Homo sapiens: one gene and its partners. The gene in region 7 interacts genetically with the main gene of each other region. Each region holds a gene or a part of one and is shown on either strand. Other genes may lie near its edges. The genes, in order: CAND1, RAB1A, TBL1XR1, MAN1B1, RICTOR, MAN2A1 and EED.

What was found.
Region 1: changes in EED (region 7) and CAND1 together harm fitness less than expected from each alone (positive genetic interaction), as found in Homo sapiens cells (one large-scale study listed by BioGRID).
Region 2: changes in EED (region 7) and RAB1A together harm fitness more than expected from each alone (negative genetic interaction), as found in Homo sapiens cells (one large-scale study listed by BioGRID).
Region 3: changes in EED (region 7) and TBL1XR1 together harm fitness less than expected from each alone (positive genetic interaction), as found in Homo sapiens cells (one large-scale study listed by BioGRID).
Region 4: changes in EED (region 7) and MAN1B1 together harm fitness more than expected from each alone (negative genetic interaction), as found in Homo sapiens cells (one large-scale study listed by BioGRID).
Region 5: changes in EED (region 7) and RICTOR together harm fitness less than expected from each alone (positive genetic interaction), as found in Homo sapiens cells (one large-scale study listed by BioGRID).
Region 6: changes in EED (region 7) and MAN2A1 together harm fitness more than expected from each alone (negative genetic interaction), as found in Homo sapiens cells (one large-scale study listed by BioGRID).

Annotation. Positions count from the first base shown.
Region 1 is NC_000012.12:67,317,406-67,320,453, reverse strand, and holds the end of CAND1 (cullin-associated NEDD8-dissociated protein 1), read right to left. Parts: 3' UTR 501-3,048; downstream 1-500. UniProt on the Homo sapiens protein: Key assembly factor of SCF (SKP1-CUL1-F-box protein) E3 ubiquitin ligase complexes that promotes the exchange of the substrate-recognition F-box subunit in SCF complexes, thereby playing a key role in the cellular repertoire of SCF complexes.
Region 2 is NC_000002.12:65,120,107-65,123,606, reverse strand, and holds part of RAB1A (ras-related protein Rab-1A), read left to right. Parts: intron 1-3,500. UniProt on the Homo sapiens protein: The small GTPases Rab are key regulators of intracellular membrane trafficking, from the formation of transport vesicles to their fusion with membranes.
Region 3 is NC_000003.12:177,019,483-177,022,982, forward strand, and holds part of TBL1XR1 (F-box-like/WD repeat-containing protein TBL1XR1), read right to left. Parts: 3' UTR 1-3,500. UniProt on the Homo sapiens protein: F-box-like protein involved in the recruitment of the ubiquitin/19S proteasome complex to nuclear receptor-regulated transcription units. Plays an essential role in transcription activation mediated by nuclear receptors.
Region 4 is NC_000009.12:137,103,985-137,106,833, reverse strand, and holds part of MAN1B1 (endoplasmic reticulum mannosyl-oligosaccharide 1,2-alpha-mannosidase), read right to left. Parts: coding exon of another isoform or gene 2,469-2,849; exon of another isoform or gene 1,858-2,468; intron 710-1,857; coding exon 519-709; intron 146-518; coding exon 25-145; intron 1-24. Other genes in the region: uncharacterized protein LOC124902313, read right to left, coding at 2,624-2,849. UniProt on the Homo sapiens protein: Involved in glycoprotein quality control targeting of misfolded glycoproteins for degradation.
Region 5 is NC_000005.10:38,948,900-38,952,399, reverse strand, and holds part of RICTOR (rapamycin-insensitive companion of mTOR), read left to right. Parts: coding exon 1-204; intron 205-1,679; coding exon 1,680-2,688; intron 2,689-2,972; coding exon of another isoform or gene 2,973-3,044; intron 3,045-3,500. UniProt on the Homo sapiens protein: Component of the mechanistic target of rapamycin complex 2 (mTORC2), which transduces signals from growth factors to pathways involved in proliferation, cytoskeletal organization, lipogenesis and anabolic output.
Region 6 is NC_000005.10:109,696,427-109,699,926, reverse strand, and holds part of MAN2A1 (alpha-mannosidase 2), read right to left. Parts: intron 1-3,500. UniProt on the Homo sapiens protein: Catalyzes the first committed step in the biosynthesis of complex N-glycans. It controls conversion of high mannose to complex N-glycans; the final hydrolytic step in the N-glycan maturation pathway.
Region 7 is NC_000011.10:86,265,253-86,268,752, forward strand, and holds part of EED (polycomb protein EED), read left to right. Parts: intron 1-830; coding exon 831-964; intron 965-3,203; coding exon 3,204-3,309; intron 3,310-3,500. UniProt on the Homo sapiens protein: Polycomb group (PcG) protein. Component of the PRC2/EED-EZH2 complex, which methylates 'Lys-9' and 'Lys-27' of histone H3, leading to transcriptional repression of the affected target gene.

The DNA of each region.
Region 1 (3,048 bases), on a different chromosome or scaffold from region 7:
CTGAGGGCCACACAGGGACCATCTCTTCGTGTGCATAGGGTGCCAATTCACCTCAGCCTTTAGCCACAGACCAAATACTTCATCCAGATAAGGGGTAGATGATAAGAACCTCAAATGGGATACTTAAAGCCCAGAAAACTTTGTAACTGGGCCCTTGAGCCACTTGCTCAGGCCCACTCCCACCCAGTAGAGTGCTTTCTCGCTTTCATAAAATTCCTGCTTTTGCTGCTTCATTCCTGCATTTCATTCCTCTGCTACTTTGCGCGTTTTGTTCAGTTCTTTGTTCAAAATGCCCAGGACCTGGACAATTCGTAGTCAAGCCCCTCCACTGGTAACACTAGATACATTAATAATTTGCCCAAAGTCCCACTCTCAAGAAGTGGTAGAACCAGATTTAAACCCAGGTTTAGAGCCTGAGCTTTTACAACTATATTATAATGTTTCTCAGTAAAGCATTACCAAAGACCAAGAAATAACAGATGCTTCAAGATGGCAAAAAATCTGATGTGCTTATATTTATTGTGTCAAAATTCTACTGAAATGACAGTAAATATTTTTTAAAAGGAATGAATCCAAAACCATATATAGAGCAAGAAGGAAGGCCCAAGAATTTTGGAAATTCTGACAAATTTCTAGAAGGCAGAAAGCTGGGGGCATCAGAGTACAGAAAGTCACAAACCAGACAAGGAGGGGTTACTTTTAGTCCAGACAAGTGACTCCAAGCTGAGTCTTTAGATACAGAAACTGGAACTACGTTGGCAGTATTCAGTTTGACATTAAGGGCTGTTTGTGAACAGCTGGACTAGTCGGCCCTTCCCATACCCTCAGTAACCATCAGCAATGGTATGGAGGAGGGGAATAGCAGTATCTGCACCAACGTTAACAGACAGACAGGTGCTTTTAAAAGGAATTTGACAATATTACGTGCCTGAAAATGGAGTCAGGTTCCAAACATGGGAGTTGGCCCTTGGATTATGCCCTCTTCATTACTTGTCCAGGGAAGACTTCCTGGAGTCCTTGACCTAACCTACAAGATGAAAAGCAGCCAGCTAAGTAAAACAAAAGAGAAGTCAAGTCATTCCAGGCAAAAGGCATAACTTGACCTTGAGCAAACTTGAGAAGGCAAGGGAAATATTTTATAGTTGTCAGAAGAAAAAGTTAGTCCTAGTTGTGAGAGATGCTGAGGCTGGTGGGGCAGGCAGTAACCAGATCTAGTTTGTACTTATCCTATGGGCAAAAGAGAGACAGTGAAGGATGTAGTGCAAAGATGAAATGGTCAGGACCATTGTTTTGCAGCTGTGTAGAGGAAGGACTGGGAATTAATGCCTTCTGGGTATTTTAATGTGGTGGTTTCCAAGGTGTGGCCTTGGGGAACAGCATTAGAACCTGGGAACGTCATAGAAATACAAATTACTGGTTTACTACAGCCTACTGAACCACAGCCTCTGGGTGTAGGGCCCAGCGATCTGTTTTAATAAGTCTTACAGGTGACTGTGATGCACACTCATTTGAAAACTATTCTTCTAAGAGCTCATTCCTCAAGACATTTCATCTCCTTTATGAATTGTTTCTGTCTCACTCATGTTGAATGGACCATACCCTCAATTATTAACCCCCAGTATCCCGTGTATACCTCTCATACAGCAGAATTTTATGGTGCTTCCTTATGTCAGTCTTCCCATGATAATCAGCAAGCTTCTTCATATCAAGTACAGTCTCAACAGCTTTTGTAGCCCTGGCAGCACCCTAAGCGCGTAATAAATTGGCTTGCTAAATGAATGAACACAAAAATAACGATTAGCAGGCATTTGCCGCAGTCCAGTCAATAGATAAGGAGGAAAAGAGGTCTTAAGCCAAAAGCATGAGAGATATTTAGGAAAGAGATATTTAGGAGATGGGCATGAGAGATATTTAGGAAATAAAAGGGACAGAATGCTAGTAAGAGTTAACAATTATATTACTTAGTATGTCCCAGGTACTGTTTTAAGTGCTTTATACAATGTTCCTATTTAATCCTCACAATAACCCTATAAGGTGCAAATATTTTAATTCCCATTTTATAGATAGGGAAAGTTGAGGTTAAATTATTTGCCCAAGTCTAACAGCTAACAGCCAGGATTCAAACTAATATGATATATGATGTCTATCTATCTGTAGAGTCCTTGTTTTTTTTGAGACAGGGTCTCGCTTTGTCACCCAGGCTGGAGTGCAGTGGTGCATGCAATCTTGGGTCACTGCAACCTCCACCTCCCAGGTTCAAGCAATTCCCCTGCCTCAGCCTCCCACACAGCTGGGACTACAGGCATGTGCCACCACGTCTAGCTAATTTCTTTGTGTTTTTTTAGCAAAGACGGGGTTTCGCCATGTTGGCCAGACTGGTCTCGAACTCTTGACCTCAAGCAATCCACCTGCCTTGGCCTCCCAGAGTCCTTGTTCTTTATCATATTCTGCCTCCAAACTCTTGCTAAGTGAGGCTTTTAGATTTCCAGTTTGAATGACTGGGTAAATGGGATGCCATCAGCAAAGAGACAGGAAAAACCAGGGCAAGATGATGACTTCAGCTTTAGATATGCTGTGTTTGAGATACCTTTATGAGATGTATAGCAGGTGGTTGGATATAATAGTCTGAAACAGGGGCATGGACTGGGCTAGATGTATAGATTAAGAAACTGGCTGGGGGACGTGGCTCACGCCTGTAATCCCAGCACTTTGGGAGGCCGAGGCGGGTGTATCACCTAAGATCAGGAGTTTGAAACCAGCCTGGCCAACATGGCAAAACTCCATCTCTACTAAAAATACAAAAATTAGCTGGGCATGGTGGCACACGCCTGTAATCACAGCTACTTGGGAGGCTGAGGCAGGAGAATAGCTAGAACCCGGGAGGCAGAGGTTGCAGTGAGCCGATATTGCGCCACTGCACTCCAGCCTGGGAGACAAAGCAAGACTCCATCAATCTCAAAAAAAAAAAAAAAAAAAAAAATTAAGAAAGAAAAAAAAAGAAAAAAGAAATCAACAACATGTGGCTGGGCAAGGAGGCACTTGCAATAA
Region 2 (3,500 bases), on a different chromosome or scaffold from region 7:
ATCCACCCACCTCAGCCAAATTGCTGGGATTACTTGTGTGAGCCACGCGCCTGGCTTCTACTTGGCTTTTAAAGGGAATTTTGCTTTCTGAGTAATTTTATTTCTCAGGTATCTTGGTCTTTTTAATTCTGGAAGCAATCTTAATAATTTATGTATGTGCCCTGTAATCCCAGCACTTTGGGAGGCCGAGGTGGGCGAATCACGAGGTCAGGAGATCGAGACCATCCTGGCTAACACGGTGAAACCCCATCTACTAAAAATACAAAAAATTAGCTGGGCGTGGTGGCAGGCGCCTGTAGTCCCAGCTACTTGGGAGGCTGAGGCAGGAGAATCATTTGAACCCGGGAGGCAGAGCTTGCAGTGAGCCGAGATCGCGCCACTGCACTCCAGCCTGGGCGACAGAGCGAGACTCTGTCTCAAAAAAAAAAAAAAAAAAATTTACGTATGTGCTAACATCCTGCTATATTCACCTTCCATAGCAATCTGTTGGCTGTGTGTTGTGTATGTGTGTGTTTTCTCTTCTGGGTAGTTTTGACTATACCTATGTGATGGTTTCACTATTTGTAGTTTGAATAGTTCAGTTTTATTTTGGATAGTAAAGAAGAGCTTGCTTTTTTTTTTTTTTTTTTTTTGTCTGAGACGGAGTCTTGTTCTGTTGCCCAGGCTGGAGTGCAGTGGTGTGATCTGGGCTCACTGCAAGCTCTGCCTCCTGGGCTCACACCATTCTCCTGCCTCAGCCTCCCGATTAGCTGGGACTACAGGTGCCCGCCGCCAGGCCCAGCTAAATTTTTGCATTTTTTAGTAGAGATGGGGTTTCACTGTGTTAGCCAGGATGATCTCCTGACCTTGTGATCCACCTGCCTCTGCCTCTCAAAGTGCTGAGATTACAGGCGTGAGCCACCACGTCTGGCCAGAATAGCTTTCTTTTGTGGCAAGCTATATACTTTCCTAATATATGAACATGTTTAGGGTAAAATAAGATGCTTCTTAACGTTTTGAGATTTAAAAAAAATTTGCTAATCAACTTTGAGTGTCTGTTTTTTGAGATATAGGGTCTTACTCTGTCACGCAGGCTACAGTGCAGTGATGCAATCATAACTTACTATAGCCTCCAACTCCTAGCCGGGTTTCAGTGATCCTCCCACCTCAGCCTCCTGAGTAGCTGAGAATACAAGCGCGTGCCACCACACCTGGCTAATTTTTTTTTTTTTTTTGTATTTTTTGTAGGGATGGGATTTCAATATGTTGCCCCAGGCTAGTCTCAAATTCCTGGTCTCGAGATCCACCTGCCTCAGCTTCCCAAAGTGCTGGGATTATAGGCATGAGCCCCACGCTTGGCTGAGTGTCTTAAGATGAAGAAAAACTGAAAATGGGTGTAGTGTGCCAGTGCATGAGGTATTTTAAATGTGTAGCTTACCAGCTTTTTTTTTTTTTTTTTTTTTTTTTTTTTTGAGATAGAGTCTTGCTCTGTCACCCAGGCTGGAGTGCAGTGGCACAATCTTGGCTTACTGCAACGTCTGTCTCCCGGGTTCCAGCATTTCTTCTGCCTCAGCCTCCTGAGTAACTGGGACTACAGGCGTCCACCACCACGGCCAGCTAATTTTTATATTAGTAGAGATGGGGTTTCACCATGTTGGCCAGGCTGGTCTCCAACTCCTGACCTCAGGTGATCCGCCTGCCTTGGTCTCCCAAAGTGCTAGGATTACAGGCGTGAGCCACTACGTTTGGCTGCTTATCAGCTTTTTACCACTTTGTCGCCACTACATTTTGGAATTTTCCTTTGAGAATTAGGCAAAATGCCCAGACTCCCCCCCGGCCCCCGCTTTAGAGGGAGAGGGGAGCAATTAGACTATTCCTTTGTTTCCCTATAGAAGGTGGGGCTGAGATTACTGCTTTGATATCTGGAATGTAATTTAGGGAAGAAAATTTAGGTCTTGGCCTTTCTTTGGAACCACCCTGGGAGTGTTGCAGATTATTAATAGGGTAATGGTGGAATGATATTCAGGGGAAAAATGGTCCTGAGGAGCCAGAGAACTAAGTGTTAGTTTGTTGGCTGACTGAAACATGTGAGAGATAGGGTACAGAAGAAGTAGGAAATAGTTTTCCTTGGTACTTCTGTGACAGGTTGGCTCAATTGGCTGGAACACCCTACACTGCTTTATTAAATCCAAGGTTGTGATAGGTTCCAGTTAAGTTTACTGTGTTCTATGCTTGTAGATTTCCTAATTAGGACAAGTAGTGTTAAATATGCATGCCTTTATTCACAAGAGGGACCATTCTTTTGGAAACATCACTTTTTAATAATACTAGGTGCTATTTAGCACTTACTCGGTGCCAGCCACGTGGCTATGGTTTTTTTTTTTTTTTTTTTCGAGACATGATCTAGCTCTGTCTCCCAGGCTGGAGTGGTGGTAGCACAGTCATGGCTCACTGCAGTCTCAACCTCCTGTACTCTAGTGATCCTCCTGTCTCAGCCTCCTGAGTAACTGGCACCATGCCTGGCTAATTTTTTTTTAAGAGATGAGATGTCGCTATGTTGCCTATGCTGGTCTCGAACACCTGGGCTCAAGTGATCCTCCTGCCTGAGCCTCTCAAAGTGTTGGGATTACAGGTGTGACCCACCTCACTTGGCCATCTATGGTCTTTACATAGGGCATTTTGTGCAGTCTGCGTCTCAAACTAGTGATCTTCAACAGTGAAACTCAGTGAATTATGTAATTCATGTTTTCCAAGAACAATGATGGATTTAATTTCTCTGAATGTATTTCCTTTGTATAATAATAGTACTTAAGTGGAATTACTCTTTGTCCTTTCTACTCTCCTTATAGATATTTTCTGGTATCTTGATTTGGGACTGTTACATTTAACCCATTTATGGTCGTGTAGCCATACTCACGTTACATTTGATGCATCTGCTCCCTTTGTGTCTATATACTCATATAACATTTTGCATAAAGTTATAGGCAGTTCACACCAAGGCTGTTCATGAACCTCAGATTAAGAATACTTGATTTAGGAGATTGAAAACAGAAAAGAGAATGTTAACTATCATTATCAATATTAAAATGTGAAAATCTGAGAGTGACAAAGCTTAGCTTTAAATCTGGTATCCCAAACTCATTTGAGTTTTTTTTTTTTTTTTTTTTTTTTTGAGACAAGGTGTCGCTTTGTCCCCCAGGCTGGAGTGTAGTGGTGTGATCTTGGCTCACTGCAACCTCCACCTCCCAGGTTCAAGTGATTCTCCTGCCTCAGCCTCTGAAGTTGCTGGGATTACAGGCTGCGCCACCACGCCCAGCTAATTTTTTGTATTTATAGTAAAGACGGAGTTTCACCTTATTGGCCAGGCTGGTCTCAAACTCCTGATCTTGTGATCCTCCCGCCTCGGCCTCCCAAAGTGCTGGGATTACAGGTGTGAGCCACTGTTCCCGGCCTAATTTGAGTTTTAAAATGTGGAGTTTAAGATGTTAGTCTTAAAGTGGGTTAGATGAAATTTATAAAAA
Region 3 (3,500 bases), on a different chromosome or scaffold from region 7:
AGCATGCAGAAAAAGTAGCATAGGGTTAACATTTCATTGATGACAAAGCACTTTGGTACAGCAGAGAAAAGCACCATAAAACTACCATCTAAAGTGTCTTTTCCTCCACTGTATTTTTTCAAATGAATATATTGGTAAAACAGTAAACTTTGATCTGATCTGCTACGGATTATACTAGGTAATAAATCTAATCCATTGTAAAGTGTTAACTATGAAATTAAAAATAATCCCTTCTATTACTGTTCAAATTAGTTTCAGCTTTCCCTCAAGCTTATAAGGATTCTAATCCTTAGGAGTCCAACCCTTTTTGGAAAAGTATACAATGCAGGATATTACTAATAATCTATGCCATGCAATAAAAGTTAACCCCTTGAAAATGAAAGCATGTCAGTTCTAGCAACTGCAGTGGCTTATTTCTAATAAAACATAAAACTATGCTTGAATTTATTTCTGTTTAAGGAAATAAACAGGAAAAATAGAAGACCTAGAGAGTGTAAATTCTTAAAAAAAAAAAAAAGAAAATATGCTCAATGATTCTTTTTAAAAAGTCTCTAACTCTAAAGGAGTTGGTATTAATTAAAACTAGAAGGTGTCTAGTTGTTTTTCTTATAAAGTTTGTAGTAACAACTAGCTAAGAGAGAAAATGATTCAACTATAATTGGCTTGTTGTGAAGCAAAAAAAGGTCACCGAGAAGTTGAGCCTCCTGCCCTAATCTTCAACACATCTACACATTGTTTTGTGCTCAACCGTGTGGCTAACCAAACAAATGTTATCTAAGGTCTCTTTTTCAGCTTCTGTGAAATAACGTCTTTTAAATACAATATTTATTTTTCAAAAGAATTAAAAATTACAATCCCTTAGCTGATTAGATGCTCTATTATACTTTAATAAAAATAGTAAATAACCCCTTCATTTAAAAAAATCTTATCTCCTGCAAGAAGTAATAAAAATAGTAAAATTTGTAATTTTATTATGGGCTTAAAGTATATATCTTGGGAAACAATACGTTTATGAAAAACAGTGGTTTGGGTTCTGATGGCAGTTATTAATCAGTAACACCAGTATGGGAGAGAATGAATGTGTTATAGGTTATGAAGGCTAACTTGGAAAAAAAGGTTTATTCTACAATAGAACACTGGAGAAGTAAAAGCAATTAAAATGTAAACAAACTGTAAACAAGAAATACCATCCCTCTCTCTTTACCTGACTAGTAAATAGTCTATATAAACTACATAGACATCAAAGGTTTTATATATGTACACAGCCAACATAATATCAAAATATATTTTATTCTGGACCTCTTTCAGATCTGATTCAAATTACAGTTGTCAAAGCAATACAATGCAAAGGGGAACTGCAACAACAACAACAACAAGAAATGTGCCTAGAAAGGATAAAAGGGTCACTGGGGACAAATCATTGTGATGTGGAACTAAAATACGTCGTAAGTGTAATTAACATGGTCCAGGACAGCACAGAACATCTACATCAGTCTTCCTTACACAATAATCATGAAAACTGAACAATGAAGTTCTTTAACATGTACAAAAACCTGTCATGGGCTGGTTTACACTTTTACAACAGTTTTAAAGTTAACTGGATAACTAAAGAAATGATGCAGACATTTTAATCCAGTGCTATAGGTAGGCTCACAGAATTAGACCCAAAGGATTTGTAAAAACAAAAATGGAAACAGTATAGCTACAATGTCAAAGTCAGGAAAGAAGAAAATTTACTTCCGTATTCAAGGATTACAGAGCTACAAATGCAGTCTGTGTGTTTTTGTTTGTAATGAGATGGATAAGTACATCAGACTAGATACAACATGCAGAATGTTTTCCTGAACTTATCCGGAAATTCCAAAGAAAACATCATGAAACAGCTTACAAAAAAAAAAAAAATATATGCCCTAGTTATTCACCCTGCTTCAACACTGTCAACGTAAAGGCAGAAATAAAGCAAGCTATCAATACCTCAGAACTACTGATATAAGACATCAAATTTCTAAATCAGTGTATTAAAAAAGTGAACACTTCCTCTTTCTTCTCTCTTCTACATTTAACTAGAATCATGTTTAAAAAAAACTGATATTAAATGTGACACTTCAGAGCTACTACTGGAAGGAGTAATTCATAACTTCCCTACCCTCCTTCCATCCCTGCTGATTCAGGAGAAGGGGGAAAAAACAAAGAAAACAAAACGAAAAACCAACCAGGGTCTCTTGTAGATTTGCTGCTATTCCACAAAATGTTGGCATTTGCTGCCATGCCACAATGTTGGTCCACTGAAATAGGATTTCTGCGGAAACTGTCAACAGTAGTAATTCACCATATGCAAGTACCATCCTTATCATGCGAGAATAATCACAGGTTCTGTAGAAATGTACAATGTACTTAAGATAATGAAAATTGTAGCGCTGCATTTGAGATTTATTTCTCTACTTAGCTAGTAAAACTTGTCATTTTTGCTCACTTAAGTATGATCATTTGTGATTCCTTTAAATAGCAAAAATGCACAGTCCTCTTTAGGCCTCTACTCAATAATAGTTTACATTACTCTTAACAAAATCATTCTACATAAACAGATAGCTCCTTAAAAATAGTACTCTCTCATTAAATCTAATTTGACAGAAAGAAGTTTAAGGGAAAAAGGAGTGCTTTGTAAGTGAAAAAGTACAAATCTTTGGCCTTTCTCTTGACATTTTCGTATGTCAAAAAGCAAAAAACCTTCATGTATTTCAATCTAGTGATTACTTTTTGCACCATAATTTGTTTTTTACACCACAAAAGGAGGCACTTTCAGTATCTGTAAAAGGTATTTAATCCTAAAACATACTTACCTAGAGAATAATTAAAACAGAATTCAATACAATCTAGTATCTATTAGGAAATTAAGAGTTATCACTTCTAAAAGTCATTTGAAAGTCAATGATGTTATCTGGTCAATGGCAGGAAATGGGAACTGGAACAAATATAAGAACTTATGGGATTTCCTACACGGAGACAAAAAAAGATATTCCTTTATGTTGTTTAAAAGTGGCAGCTGCTCTTTCTTTATTCCATTTTAATCAATGAGTATTGATTCAAGTTTTCCTTTCTATTTTTCCTTATGATAAGTTTCTTACAGTAGCTTATACAACAACAAATAGCATAGAAAAACTACTGGATTCAATTGATCATCAGGAATAAGTTCTCAGAAAAACACAGGCGGAAAAATAAGCAAGAATCCCAAATACAGAACTTTACAAGCTGTGAAACTTGGTCTCTTGCAATCATGTTACTGCTCAAATTAGAGACAATCTTATTGCTGTCTATTGGAGCAGCATCGTGGCACATCAGCAGGCAATGATGATGTTGAGAACAGCAGCAAAAATAAACAATCGTATGCTCATGAAGAACCCAAGCCTACAAAATGGATACCTTTCAGAAAAGTATATACTTAAAAGACCCAAGACGTCAGGATAATAAAGCTCTGTATTTATAATCTTTTATATGTCCTA
Region 4 (2,849 bases), on a different chromosome or scaffold from region 7:
GGAAGGCCCCGCAGACACACTCACCATCTTGGCACTGAAGCGGCCGTGGGCAAGCTCCCCCACAAAGGTGAGCTTACTGGGCTCGGAGTGCCGCAGCAGGTGCGTTCTGACACCCTCGATGGCTTCCACGTAGTCTTCCAGCAGCCTGTGGACACCAGCAGTCATCTCACTCTACCAGGACGGTGCATCGGCTCCCGTGGGGCACCAGGGACAGGCACATCCTGGGCCCACACAAGTACAGCAGGCCTGGCCCTTGCCGGACAGAAGGTGCCACCCTGCACAGCCCATGGCCCTCAGTGAAGATGCCCCCCTCACCCCCCCAGAGGCCACGGTGAGAGGTGAATGAATACGCCCTCCACATAAATGCCTGGGCCAGGCCTGGCACGGCTGCGGTTTCCTGACACACAGTGTGGCGGGGGGCAGCAGGAGCGGGGGCCGTGGGAGCTGGGGGCAGCAGGAGTGGGGGGCTGCGGGAACGGGGGAGCCGCGGGAGCTGGGGGCAGCGGGCCGGGCCTCACTGTGTCTCCTGCTTCCCGCCCTGGATCCACTGCTTCAGCAGGTACTCATAGTAGCTGTCGGCCCTGGCGCCCAGCGTGAATACGCCCAGGTGGGTGAAGAGGCCACTGTGGGTATTGATGAACATGGGCACCAGCCCATCCTTCTTCCCAGACAGGCCGTGGATGTGCTGTGTCACCTTCTCCACTGCCTCCTGCGGCAGAAAGGGGGATGGTGGGTTTACTGGCCAGGGCCGAGCTGCAGGGTGAGCTGTAGAGGGGCTCTGTGAGCTCTGCCTCCCCTCGCCCCAGCACCGACTGACTCCCAGCAGAGAGAGCTCTGTGCCCAGCCCACAGCTGTCCTTGCCCACATGGCTCCTGGTGGCCGTACCACACAGCCACACAGCCACCAGTGCAACGCACCTGAATGTCACTGCTCCCAACGGGTGGTCACCACAGAGCTGACCCATCTTCAGGATGGCTCTCATCCCTTACTCGAAGGGACAGCATCTGACAACCACAGGCACTGTCCTCACGAGAGCCCACCAGGCCTGGCCGTCAGCCATGGCTCTGGAGGGACGGCAAGTGTGCCTGCCTTCTGAGCCCAGTGTTGCTCCTGATGATATTAAACGCCTCGGCTCCACGCCCTCCTGGTGAGCTCCTACTCATCCTCCAAGTCACAGCCACCCTCAGCTCCTCAGGGCTTACGCCCAGCTGGCAGCACCAGGCGTCCTGGCCCACAGAGGGGCACAGGGTACCGGGATGTTAGGGCACGCCCAGCAAGGGCGCTCCGGGTCTCTACCCAACGCAGACACCCAAACCCATGCCCAGCACCTTCGAGGCCTGGCTGCCTATCCCTGTGTACCGGCAGCAACCAGAGGCCCTGGTGACATGGGGGTGCCCATGGGGGCCTGGGGCCATTTTCTGAGCTGCAGTGAAAACGCCTTCTAAATGTCTGCATGGGAGCCTCACGTGGATGGCGTGTGGGAGCCTCACGTGGATGGTGTGGGCTGCACTTCTCACCACAAGTGGTCACAGTTGCTCTAAAGAGGGCTGTGTCCAGCTCATGATTAAAAACAGGGACTCGAACATGAGGCCAAATACATGAGCAACAATAAACTGACCAGCTGTGCTTCATGAAAATGACAATCTGTTATCTATCAAAATACACCATTAACAAAGTAAAAAGAGGCCGGGCACAGTGGCTCACACCTGTAATCCCAGCACTTTGGGAGGCCAGTGGGTGGATCACCTGAGGTCAGTTCCAGACCATCCTGGCCAACATGGCAAAACCCCATCTCTACTAAAAATACAAAAAAATAACGGGGTGTGGTGGTGGGTGTGGTCCCAGCTACTCGGGAGGCTGAGGCAGGAGAATCGCTTGAACCCGGGAGGTGGAGGTTGCAGTGAGCCGAGATCGCGCCACAGCCTCAGGCAGGTGTGTGCACCCACACTCACAACACCCAAAACACAGCCTCAGGCAGGTGTGTGCACCCACACTCACAACACCCAAAACACAGCCTCAGGCAGGTGTGTGCACCCGCACTCACAACAAAGCAGAGCCTCAGGCAGGTGTGTGCACCCACACTCACAACGGCCAAAACACAGCCTCAGGCAGGCGTGTGCACCCGCGCTTACAGCAACCAAAACAGCACAGTCCTGGTGTCCACCAGAGGAGAGAGGATTAAACAAAAAGTGGCCTAGCCACGCAGCAGATATTCAGCCTGAAAAAGGAATCTCTGAAGCATCTTTCGCGTATGAAGCTTAAAGACGCTGAGTGAAAGGAGCCCAAATAAAAGGATAAATCAGCCGGGTGTGGTAGCTCACGCCTGTCATCCCAGCACTGTGGGAGGCCCAGGCGGGTGGATCACGAGGTCAGGAGTTTGAGACCAGTCTGGCCAACTTGGTGAAACCCTGTCTCTAATAAAAACACAAAAATTAGCTGGGCGTGGTGGCAGGCGCCTGTAATCCCAGCTACTTGGGAGGCTGAGGCAGGAGAATCACTTGAACCTGGGAGTGGAGGTTGCAGTGAGCTGAGATCACGCCACTGCACTCCAGCCTGAGTGACAGAATGAGACTCTGTCTCAACAAACGAAAACAAAAAAAGGACAAATCGTGTGTGACTGCACTCACACGAGGAACTCCACACAATGAGGTCCAGGAAGAAAAACCTGAACAGTGTTTTTCAGGGACTGGGGAGGGACATGAAGGGTCACTGTGTGATGGGAGAGCTTCAGTTTTAAGATGAAAAGGGCTCTGGAGATGGAAGTGATAGCTGCACAACAGCATGAATGTGTGTAACACCACTGACCTGTACTCCTGCAACAGCGTGAATGTAACACCACCGACCTGCAT
Region 5 (3,500 bases), on a different chromosome or scaffold from region 7:
TAGCTAAAACCAAACAAGGCTGTGATATTCTAAAATGTCACAACTGGGATGCTGTGAGGCATAGTCGCAAACATCTGTGGCCAGTGGTTCCAGATGATGTGGAACAACTCTGTAATGAACTTTCATCTATCCCAAGCACTCTAAGTTTGAACTCGGAGTCAACCAGCTCTAGACATAATAGTGAAAGTGAATCTGTGCCATCGAGTGAGTATCCTGACAGGTTCATATAAAGTTAGCCAATGTTAACATTTATATTTGAATTTTAGAATTTAAATGTATTTGTTACATTTGTAATTTGCTTTTGTCTAAGATAATTATTTGGCAATAATAGCCTCTTGGAGAATGTGTATATTTTCATAACAAAGAGTATAATCACCAGCTTACATTTTTCTCTCTCCTTATATTCTAAGTAGCTTTTGAGGATTCCTACAAAGTTATGTAATAAGCCATGTGCCAGAAGAACCAGTCCTCCTTTTTTTGACAGAAAAGAAACAAATATAACAAGTATTTATTTGTCTACCTTCTTTATTTAATCTTTTTACTCATTTTTCAGATACTGAGATTGTTGAGCCAGAATATATTTTTAACTGATATTATATTCACATCTTCATTTTTGAGAGAAGCACTAAATTTTAAAATAGTGAAATTGTTAATAGAGTAACAAAAATAGTTATATATAAAATGATTTGTGGTTTTAAGTCCTGTGCTAAGTGGTGTTAGGTGTACAAAATTTAAGGCATGGTTCTTCCTTTTAAGAAGATAGTGTCAGCTTTATCAGACTGTGTATTTCACCAAATCTGAGATGCCATGAATTATGAAATATGCCAATATTTTATGTACCACAAAAGAAGAAGAAAGAAGAAGTGCTGCCTATTAAACTAGGACATACTACAAGATGCATATTGATTTTAGAATCAGATTCTGTGTGAAAATAGAAGGGATTAAATGTGAAAAGTGTGCATCTTAGAATTGACAAAATATAGAAATGGTAATGCAGTATGCAAATTCACTTAGGATTTTCTTTTACCTTCTTTGAAAATATATTTGAAGTATTTGTAATTATTCAACAGAAAAGTTAATAAAAGAAAAATCGTATAGATGTCATTAGGCACTCACTTGGGTTGCGTCTTCTAGTAGAATTGGGCACTAAATTTAATGAGTTTCTTAGTATCTAAGGTAAAATGAGAAATAAACATAATTTAAACATGAATTTATAATGTTACCACTTGGTTCTCTGTAAGTATATTTTAAGATTGGGAATTCATTTCTTACAAGGTGAATTTCTCCTGCTTATAGTAATTTAAAGAAGAACCACTAGGAATCTGTAGTAATTGAGTAAGCATCCATGGCCAAGTCTCCTTTTTCCCTTTAATTTCATCCTGAATATTTGGAGAATCAAAAGAAACTTCATGTAACCTGTGCCATAGTGGGTCTTATAATAATTTTTCTTTGGAAATAACAGGAGATTCTCATAAATTACATAATTTTACATTTTATTCAAGTCCAAACTCTGGGTTTCAAGAAAGATATTTTCAAGTAGCTGAATGGTTTAACCGTTTATTTTTAAATTTTTTCCTCTAGATGACTAAAAAAAAATTTCCTGAAATGTGATGTCACTAATAGTTATCATGAATTTGTCATTTTATATGTGTTTTTATTAATTGATCCTTCAATCATAGGTATGTTCATATTGGAGGATGACCGGTTTGGCAGCAGCTCTACTAGCACATTTTTCCTTGATATCAATGAAGATACAGAGCCAACATTTTATGACCGATCTGGACCCATAAAGGATAAAAATTCATTCCCTTTCTTTGCTTCTAGTAAACTTGTGAAGAATCGTATCTTAAATTCGCTTACTTTGCCTAACAAAAAACATCGTAGTAGCAGTGATCCAAAAGGAGGGAAATTATCATCTGAAAGTAAGACAAGCAACAGGCGAATCAGAACACTTACGGAGCCCAGTGTTGATTTTAATCATAGTGATGATTTTACACCCATATCCACTGTACAGAAAACATTACAATTAGAGACTTCATTTATGGGGAATAAGCACATTGAAGACACTGGTAGTACACCAAGCATTGGAGAAAATGACTTAAAATTCACCAAGAATTTTGGTACAGAGAATCACAGAGAAAATACAAGCCGAGAGAGGTTAGTAGTAGAAAGTTCAACGAGCTCACATATGAAGATACGTAGCCAAAGTTTCAATACAGACACTACAACAAGTGGCATAAGTTCAATGAGCTCAAGTCCTTCACGAGAGACAGTAGGTGTAGATGCTACAACTATGGACACAGACTGTGGAAGCATGAGTACTGTGGTAAGTACTAAAACTATTAAGACAAGCCACTATTTGACGCCACAGTCTAACCATCTGTCTCTCTCCAAATCAAATTCGGTGTCCCTGGTGCCTCCAGGTTCTTCTCATACGCTTCCTAGAAGAGCACAGTCCCTTAAAGCACCCTCTATTGCTACAATTAAAAGTCTAGCAGATTGTAACTTTAGTTACACAAGTTCTAGAGATGCTTTTGGCTATGCTACACTGAAAAGACTACAGCAACAAAGAATGCATCCATCCTTATCTCACTCTGAAGCTTTGGCATCTCCAGCAAAAGATGTGCTATTTACTGATACCATCACCATGAAGGCCAACAGTTTTGAGTCCAGATTAACACCAAGCAGGTAAGCAAATATATGTTTAGAAGTGACCAATAATGGTTGCATTTTAACAAATTTAAATACAAAATGTTAGCCAGGTTTTACACTATGTGAGCCTCATCACTGACCTATTATAATTGTTTACTATGGTAGGCTATAAGCTCCTTGTTACCCGATATGACTTGAAATGGATTCTTGCAGCTGCGAGGGGGGAAGAAAATCCTATAGGCCCTGAAAATAAACATACATGCTTTGCAAAGGACATACAAGTCACAAGCTTTTTTTTATTTATTTCTCGCTTCTGCAAGGATCGATTTTAAAAAGAAGCATGTCGGGGGAATCAGGAGCTTAAGACCTACAATAACAAACAACCTTTTCAGGTAGGTCAATTTAAGGCTCCAAAAGTTGACCTCTTTATTATTTTTTTAAAAAGATAAATGAAAATTTCAGTGAAATTATTTTCACTTTAAGTAGCTGTGATTATTAAATAGGAACCTAATAAACACTAAATGAAATACTTGGTCCTCATGACTCAGCAGGGATTTCTATACCATATTTAGATTATATCAAGCTAGTCAAAGTGAACAGTTTAGATTTTACTTTTAAAAGATACACAGTATTTGCTGCAAAAAAATTTTGTACCTATAATTTTTGTGGTTGGACCAAATGCTTCTAAACAACTTTCCTTAGTTTTAAATTATTCATTTACATTTATTTAAGTGGATTAATATATGTCAGGTACTTATATGTCAACAATATATGTTAGAATACTTTAGCACATATTAAGCACTCAATAAAAGTTAGCTATTTATCATCATCATTGGTAGTTATTTAAT
Region 6 (3,500 bases), on a different chromosome or scaffold from region 7:
TATACTGCATGGTATTTAATATCATAAAATTGAAAACACTATGTACTGGTTTTCTTTTTTTTAACATTTTTTATTTCTTTAACTGACAAATAGGATGTGAGGGCGATCTGGCTGCGAAATCTGTCACCCCATTGATCGCCAGGGTTGATTCGGCTGATCTGGCTGGCTAGGCGGGTGTCCCCTTCCTCCCTCACCACTCTATGTGAGCCCCTCCTGAAGCTGCATGCTCAGTCGTAGAGGATGACCATCCCTGATGGAGGACGGGTCTTCGGTCAAGGGTATACAAGGAGCTGCACTCCCCTGCTGGAACCTCCAAACGAGCTCTAACTGACAAATAAAAATTGTATATATTTATCAAGTATATCATTTTGAAAAATGCATACATTGTAGAATGCTAAATCAAGCTAATTAACATATGCATTACATCACTTATTTATTCTTTTTTGTGGTGAGAACACTTAAAATCTACTCTTTGCAATTTTCAAAACTACATGCTTTATTATTAATTATAATCAGTATGTTGTACAATAGATCTCTTGAACTTATTCCTCCTACCTAAAATTCCGTATCCTTGTTTACTGGTTTTCAATTTTTGTAACCAACCTATAGTCAGAGTACATAACACATTCAGTCACAGAATGAAATGTAGATGATATAAGGTATGTTGATGTAAAAAAACTGATGGCTGAGGGAGGGTGAGAAATGAGAAGGAAGAGAAATTGAGTGGGAGAAGGCTGAGAAGTACCAAATTCCTTGACTGACAGAGTGGGGAGTCACTTTAGGCCTAAAGTTGATGAATCAAGAAAACAAATGCAATTACATCATTGAAAGCTGTTAATGTATATCAAACAGAAATTGAATACAAAACTTTTTTAAAAACTGGGAAGAGTAGGGGGTATTGAGTTAAATTCTTCATCTCTTATAAAGGGAAACAATAGCTCAAAATTGAAACAAAAATCAAAACAGAGGTATATGCATATATTTAAAGAAGGAACCACACATGGAACATAAAGAAATGGTCAGAAGTGGGACTCAGAGAAGAGTGGACTAAAGATGGGGAAAAAAGGGAGAGGGATTCTATTGTCAATGTGTACCTTTCTATGTCATTTGAATTATTTCTATGTGCATTTATACCTTTTACATGTTTAAAAGAAAAAAAAAATCATTGGTAAAGTCCCAGCTCTCCGGACTCCTCACTGAAGCCAATGAAGTGCACCAGCAAGAACATAGGACAGGGTCAAATTTAGAGTCTTCTCTGCTCTTGGAAAAAGCATTTAATTTCTCTGGACTTCCAAAGGCACCACCTGCAAAGGAGGCCAGTGGTAAATCCATTTACATGTGAAAAATACACAAATGCATACATTTTTAAATGCAAAAAAACAAATACTTAAAAAACTCTACTTAACACTAACCTTAATACTACTCGATGAGACGCATTACCCCCATTTTGTTCGGACTCAGTATACTGCAATTTAAAGATGATACTAAAATCTGTGAGGACACAAATGGGGTGTTAGCCTGTGTCACAGCAACACAGCAAAGAAAGTGACATATAATCTTTAAAAGTGAAGAAAATGATGAAAATTAGCAAGAACTGCTCTTTGATAAGCAGAAGAGCAGGCCAGTACCTCTGCTGACAACCTGAAAGTACCCTGCCTCCAAGCTGAGCAACGCTCAGGATCCCAGAGACCGGCTGAGTTCCATCTTCTATTTACAGCTTATGAAGAAGATACCTATACCTGAGCTCTCCCTTCTCAGGACTAACTAACCCAAGCAATCAGACTGGGCTCAGAATTAAGCCCATCTGTGAATTACAGCAGATCCAAAAAGTCATAAAGTCATGGTTTTCAGTCTTGAAGCTATGGATCAATTTTGCCTAGTTCATGGCCCAGAACCTTCCTTCCCAGAGCAGTCCTACAGTGCAAAACCTTCAGGTGAAAGAAGAGAAACAAACTCATCAAGCATGTCGATGCTCTAGCATCAAAGTTCCCCAAGGATACCTGGAAATCTATGAAACATGTAGATAACACAAGTTTTAAACCACTCTCTAAAAACACAAAGTTTGACCAATGCTTATCTAATAACCAATTTACGAGAATTTTGTTTGTCTTTAATTAACTCACATCTACTTTAACAGATCTAACAATACTATTTGCCTCCAATATTAACAATAGAGAAATATAGTTTAAACTAGGGATTGGCAAACTCTGAAAAGGGCCAGAGAGTAAATATTTTAGGTTTTGTGAGCCAGTTTCTGTCTTAACTACTAAACTATGCCACTGTTGTGTGAAAGTGGTCAGAGACAATTGGTAGATGAATGACCATGGCTATGTCATGAAACATTATTAAACCACTTAAAAATGTAAAAACCATTCTTAGCACATGGCCCTATAAAGACAGGTGGCAGACAGATTTCACTCATAGTTAGCTGACTCAGCAGAGTTCAAAACCAGAGGCCTTGGAGACAAAAGAAGGAAGATTATTTGTCAAGAACTTCATTCTTTCCCTAACCTCCCACCTCCACCCCACTTTCGTAAAAAATGCTATTTAGAGGACAAAATGAAATGATCAGGAGGAAAGTCTCTATCCACTCTCCTTATTTTCCAGTTTCTTTCCCTGCTTTTTCTCATCTCAAGAAGATATTTAAAATGTTGTAACCAGAATCATCAAAATTAACAGAAATAAAAACAATACACTGAAAAGTAAACAGTCTGCCTGAGAAAACTGCAGACATTTCAAAACATTTTTGCAGACAATTTTTATACTACCTTATTAATCAATATATCTTATCTTCCTATGCTAAGAGGAATAAATCTGGATAAGTGCCAACCTGTAATTCAGCTGGAAGAAAGTAAAAGATGATCTATTTACAATGACCTGACCCTAATGTTTTTCTCAGAATACACACGTCCAATTGGAAAAGAATTTTTTTACGTTCCATTATAAGAATCTTCCATTTTTTCCTTCAACTTACCTATGAACATAATCTATCCTTGAAATTTTTTGTAACATACTACAATCTAGAATCCTAAATGTGTAAGTGAATTTCAGGCATCCTGAGAAAGAATAGAGTTCACCCATCAAAAAATGCTAATTGGCTTTTTGAGCTTCGGCCTTTTGATCAATCCTTCCTAAAACACAGAAGTGCTAACGACATGTACTGGGTATAAAGAAGAGGCCACAGCCAACACAGTTTCAACAGGGATGATTCCCACTCCCAGAGGATATTGAGAGCAGTGTCTGGAGACATTGTTGGTTCCTACAACTAGGGGTACAGAGAGAGAACAGTGATGTTGGCAGATATCGGGTAGACAGCAAGGATGCTGCTAGACACCCTACAACGCACAGGACAGCCCTTAACACGAAAGAATTCTCTGGCCCAAAATGTCAACAGCAAAGAGGTTACAAAGCCTGGATAGAGGCAGCAAATGGTAGAGTATGTCCAGTTTTAAACTAAAGTACTTTCTCTTCTTTAGAAAACAGTATGTTAGATTTAGAAA
Region 7 (3,500 bases):
AATGCAAAGGCTGGATTAACATATAGTATCTAGGTTAGTAAGGAAAATATACTCCTTCAATAGAACTCTCTACTGTTATTTCTTAGAATGAGAGCAGGAGACAGTATGTAGCTCTTCTGTGTAATACAGGAGTTCACTGGAGGTGGATAGGTGTGTGAGATTTTCATTACTCATTATGTGCCTTTTGCTAAATTAAATAGCATCTCTGGGCCTTAGTGTCTGCCTATGAAATGAGGTTGTTACAATAGATGATCTGTTACATGCCTGTTAAAAATTAGTAAACAGCAAATGAAAAAAGTTAAAATCTGTTTTTTATTAGACTTTTAAAAATTCACTTAAAAGTGAACTCTAAAACTAACTTCAAAATATTTTGACTTAGAATTATAAAGTAAGATGTCAGCTCTTTAAGGATTCATGTATTTTCACATGCACATGTCAGTTTCATTGGTTGGTTGAGGTTGGATAGGAAAAGTAATATCACTATTCAGCTCTTTGTGTCAGAATAATTATTTTAACTTAGTATTCAATTTACCTTCAAAATAAGCAAAATAAATATTTTAGTGTAATTGAATAGATAAAACTAAGTTTAAGTAATTTTTTCTTGGTTTATACATTGTAAATGCTCTTATATTCCGATGTTGACAAACTAATTAAAGCTGTAAATCTTGAAAGTAGTAAACTCTGATTTATGGCCTATTTAGATGAAACCCAAAATGTAGTTTGTATTGTGATTTGAAATACAGTTTTCACTATGTTGCACATTAGGCAAAAATTGGATAAATATAATTTGGAGCTGTAATTTATATAAAACTTTTTGGTTTTGCATACAGGATTATGATCTTTTGGGTGAAAAAATAATGTCCTGTGGTATGGATCATTCTCTTAAACTTTGGAGGATCAATTCAAAGAGAATGATGAATGCAATTAAGGAATCTTATGATTATAATCCAAATAAAACTAACAGGTAACAGTTGTGGTATTTGAAACAATTTGCTATGTTGTGCTATTGAATATAAGTTTTATTTTTTCCCAAAATTGCTATATAAGCCCCAACAATGAGTTTAGAAGACCTTCTTTTAACTTTAAGGGACAATTTACATACTGTAAAATTCACCCCTTTAAGAAGTCCTTTATTTGCAGTGTTTGTGGCTTAGTTTTCAAAATCCCCTTTAAATTGTGTTGTCATCTTAACTTAGTAGCACATTTTACTTATTTGTATTTTGGTATGCATATGCTTGGCCTTTTAAGTTATAAATGTAAAAGTTTTAAATCACTTAAGCTTATTATGGACTAGGGAGAGTAAAGGACACTTTAGAATAATGTTAACTTTTTTTAAATGATGCTAATTCTAATTCAAGATGGTAAACCACAGTTTTAAACAATGGAGTTCTTAGCTCTAATTCATGATAATGTTTTTCCCTAAATGATGCTCACTTGATTAAATGGAGAGAATTCAAATGCAGGAGCCTCACTTCATGGTACTATAGGTTGGGGAATTTTGCAGTTTTCTTAGTATATTTTTGAAATGTCTCAATTCTTAATGCAGTAACTGTCTTTAGAATCTTATCAGGCTGTCATTAACACTTTCACTATAAACGTTGTATGTCTGCATGTTAACTTTGTTGGCACTTTTGTTTTAGCAAAGAGCTAGAATTCATTTTCTGGTTATCAAGCCAGATTGTTAATAGATTATTAAATTTGTAAGCATCAGTAAATATTTCAATGCACTAACATTCATCAGACCTAAGTGTCCTCTAAGAATTATTAAAAGTTTTACCTTTCTCCTTTAAAACACCAGGAGCTAGTAGGACAATGTTAAATTTATATTTTTAGATTATTTTCTAGATATCTGGAATAAATACAAACTATATTTCAGAGTTTTCAAAAAATAACAGTTGTACTCGTTTTTTCTTTGAGAGAGGTTTGGCCATACAATTATAGTATGTATTTAGCTAAAAAGCAATTAATATAATTATAGCAGAGTTAAGAATTTATATCAGATCACGAATAACATTTTAATGTTTCAACAAAATATCCCAGAATTTGAATTGGAAGGATTGTTTTGAGTTGCTCCAATCCAAAGTGCTTTTTTACATATCTGAGGGAAAAGGTAAAGAGAGGACATATGAATTGCCTAAGACAACTAATTCATGGCATATTATACTTATACAGCTATTTCTGATTTAAAACTGAGTATATTAGGAATGTTAAGTGTACTGTTAAATAACTCCAGAATTAATAGCAGCTTGTTTTGTTTCTTCTCACAAATATCTCTAATGAAAACAGTGTTGCCATTTAGTTTCCTAAATACAGAAATTATTTGGAAAAGTCCTAGGAAATTTTATTTTGTTCTATTTGTTTTTTTGAGACGGAGTTTTGCTCTTGTTTCCCAGGCTGGAGTGCAGTGGTGCAATCTTGGCTCACTGCAACCTCTGCCTCGCAGGTTCAAGCGATTCTCCTGCCTCAGCCTCCCAAGTAGCTGGATTACAGGCGGCCGCCACCATGCCTGGCTAATTTTTTTTTTTTTTTTTTTTGTATTTTTAGTAGAGATGGGGTTTCACCATGTTGGCTAGGGTGGTCTCGAACTCCTGACCTCAGATGATCCACCTGCCTCGGCCTCCCAAAGTGCTGGGAGCCACCGCACCCACCCCCACTTAAGAAATTTTAAATTCCTGTAAGGCATCATTTTCAGAAATTATTGCTCAAGGCAGGACTGTAGATGTATCTTTAGCAGACTTTGGAATGATGTTTAGTTGTTCCTGGAAAGATGACTATCTTTTGAAATAGTGTAGATATATTGACTTTCATAGATTATTAATGCTTAATTTTAAGGACTGAGTAGGTAGCTTAGTATATTTTCAGTGAGAAACTGATCAGGCCTTTATTATTGGTTAGGGTACCCAGAATTGAGGTGATTAATTTTGGGTTATATATAGTAAAACGCAGGAAACTACAATGTTTATAAACAAAGTATCTATCATAGGACAAAGATAAAATTGGATAATAATGGAGAAAAATAAACAAAAGTGGAATGAGACTTTAGCTTTCAATAAATAGATAAGGTGGTTGGTTATGTAGGAACACAGAGGAATTAATAGTCTTACATTTTGTTTTTCCAAGTTTTATAAATCCAAAAATGAAAAAGAGTATGATTCTACTATAATTTTTTCTTTTAACTTTTTACATTTCCATTCTTCCTTCAGGCCATTTATTTCTCAGAAAATCCATTTTCCTGATTTTTCTACCAGAGACATACATAGGAATTATGTTGATTGTGTGCGATGGTTAGGCGATTTGATACTTTCTAAGGTATGGTAACTGCAGTTAAGCTGTACTTCCATCGTGTGTGTGTGTGTGTGTGTGTGTGTGTGTGTATGTGTGTGCGCATGTTGGAACTTGGCAGGGAGCACTTTATGTAGTTTATTAAATTGAATGGCAGCTGGGAAGTTGCCTTTTTTAAAGTCTCATATTTTGATATATTTAGAAACTTGTTTTAAGAA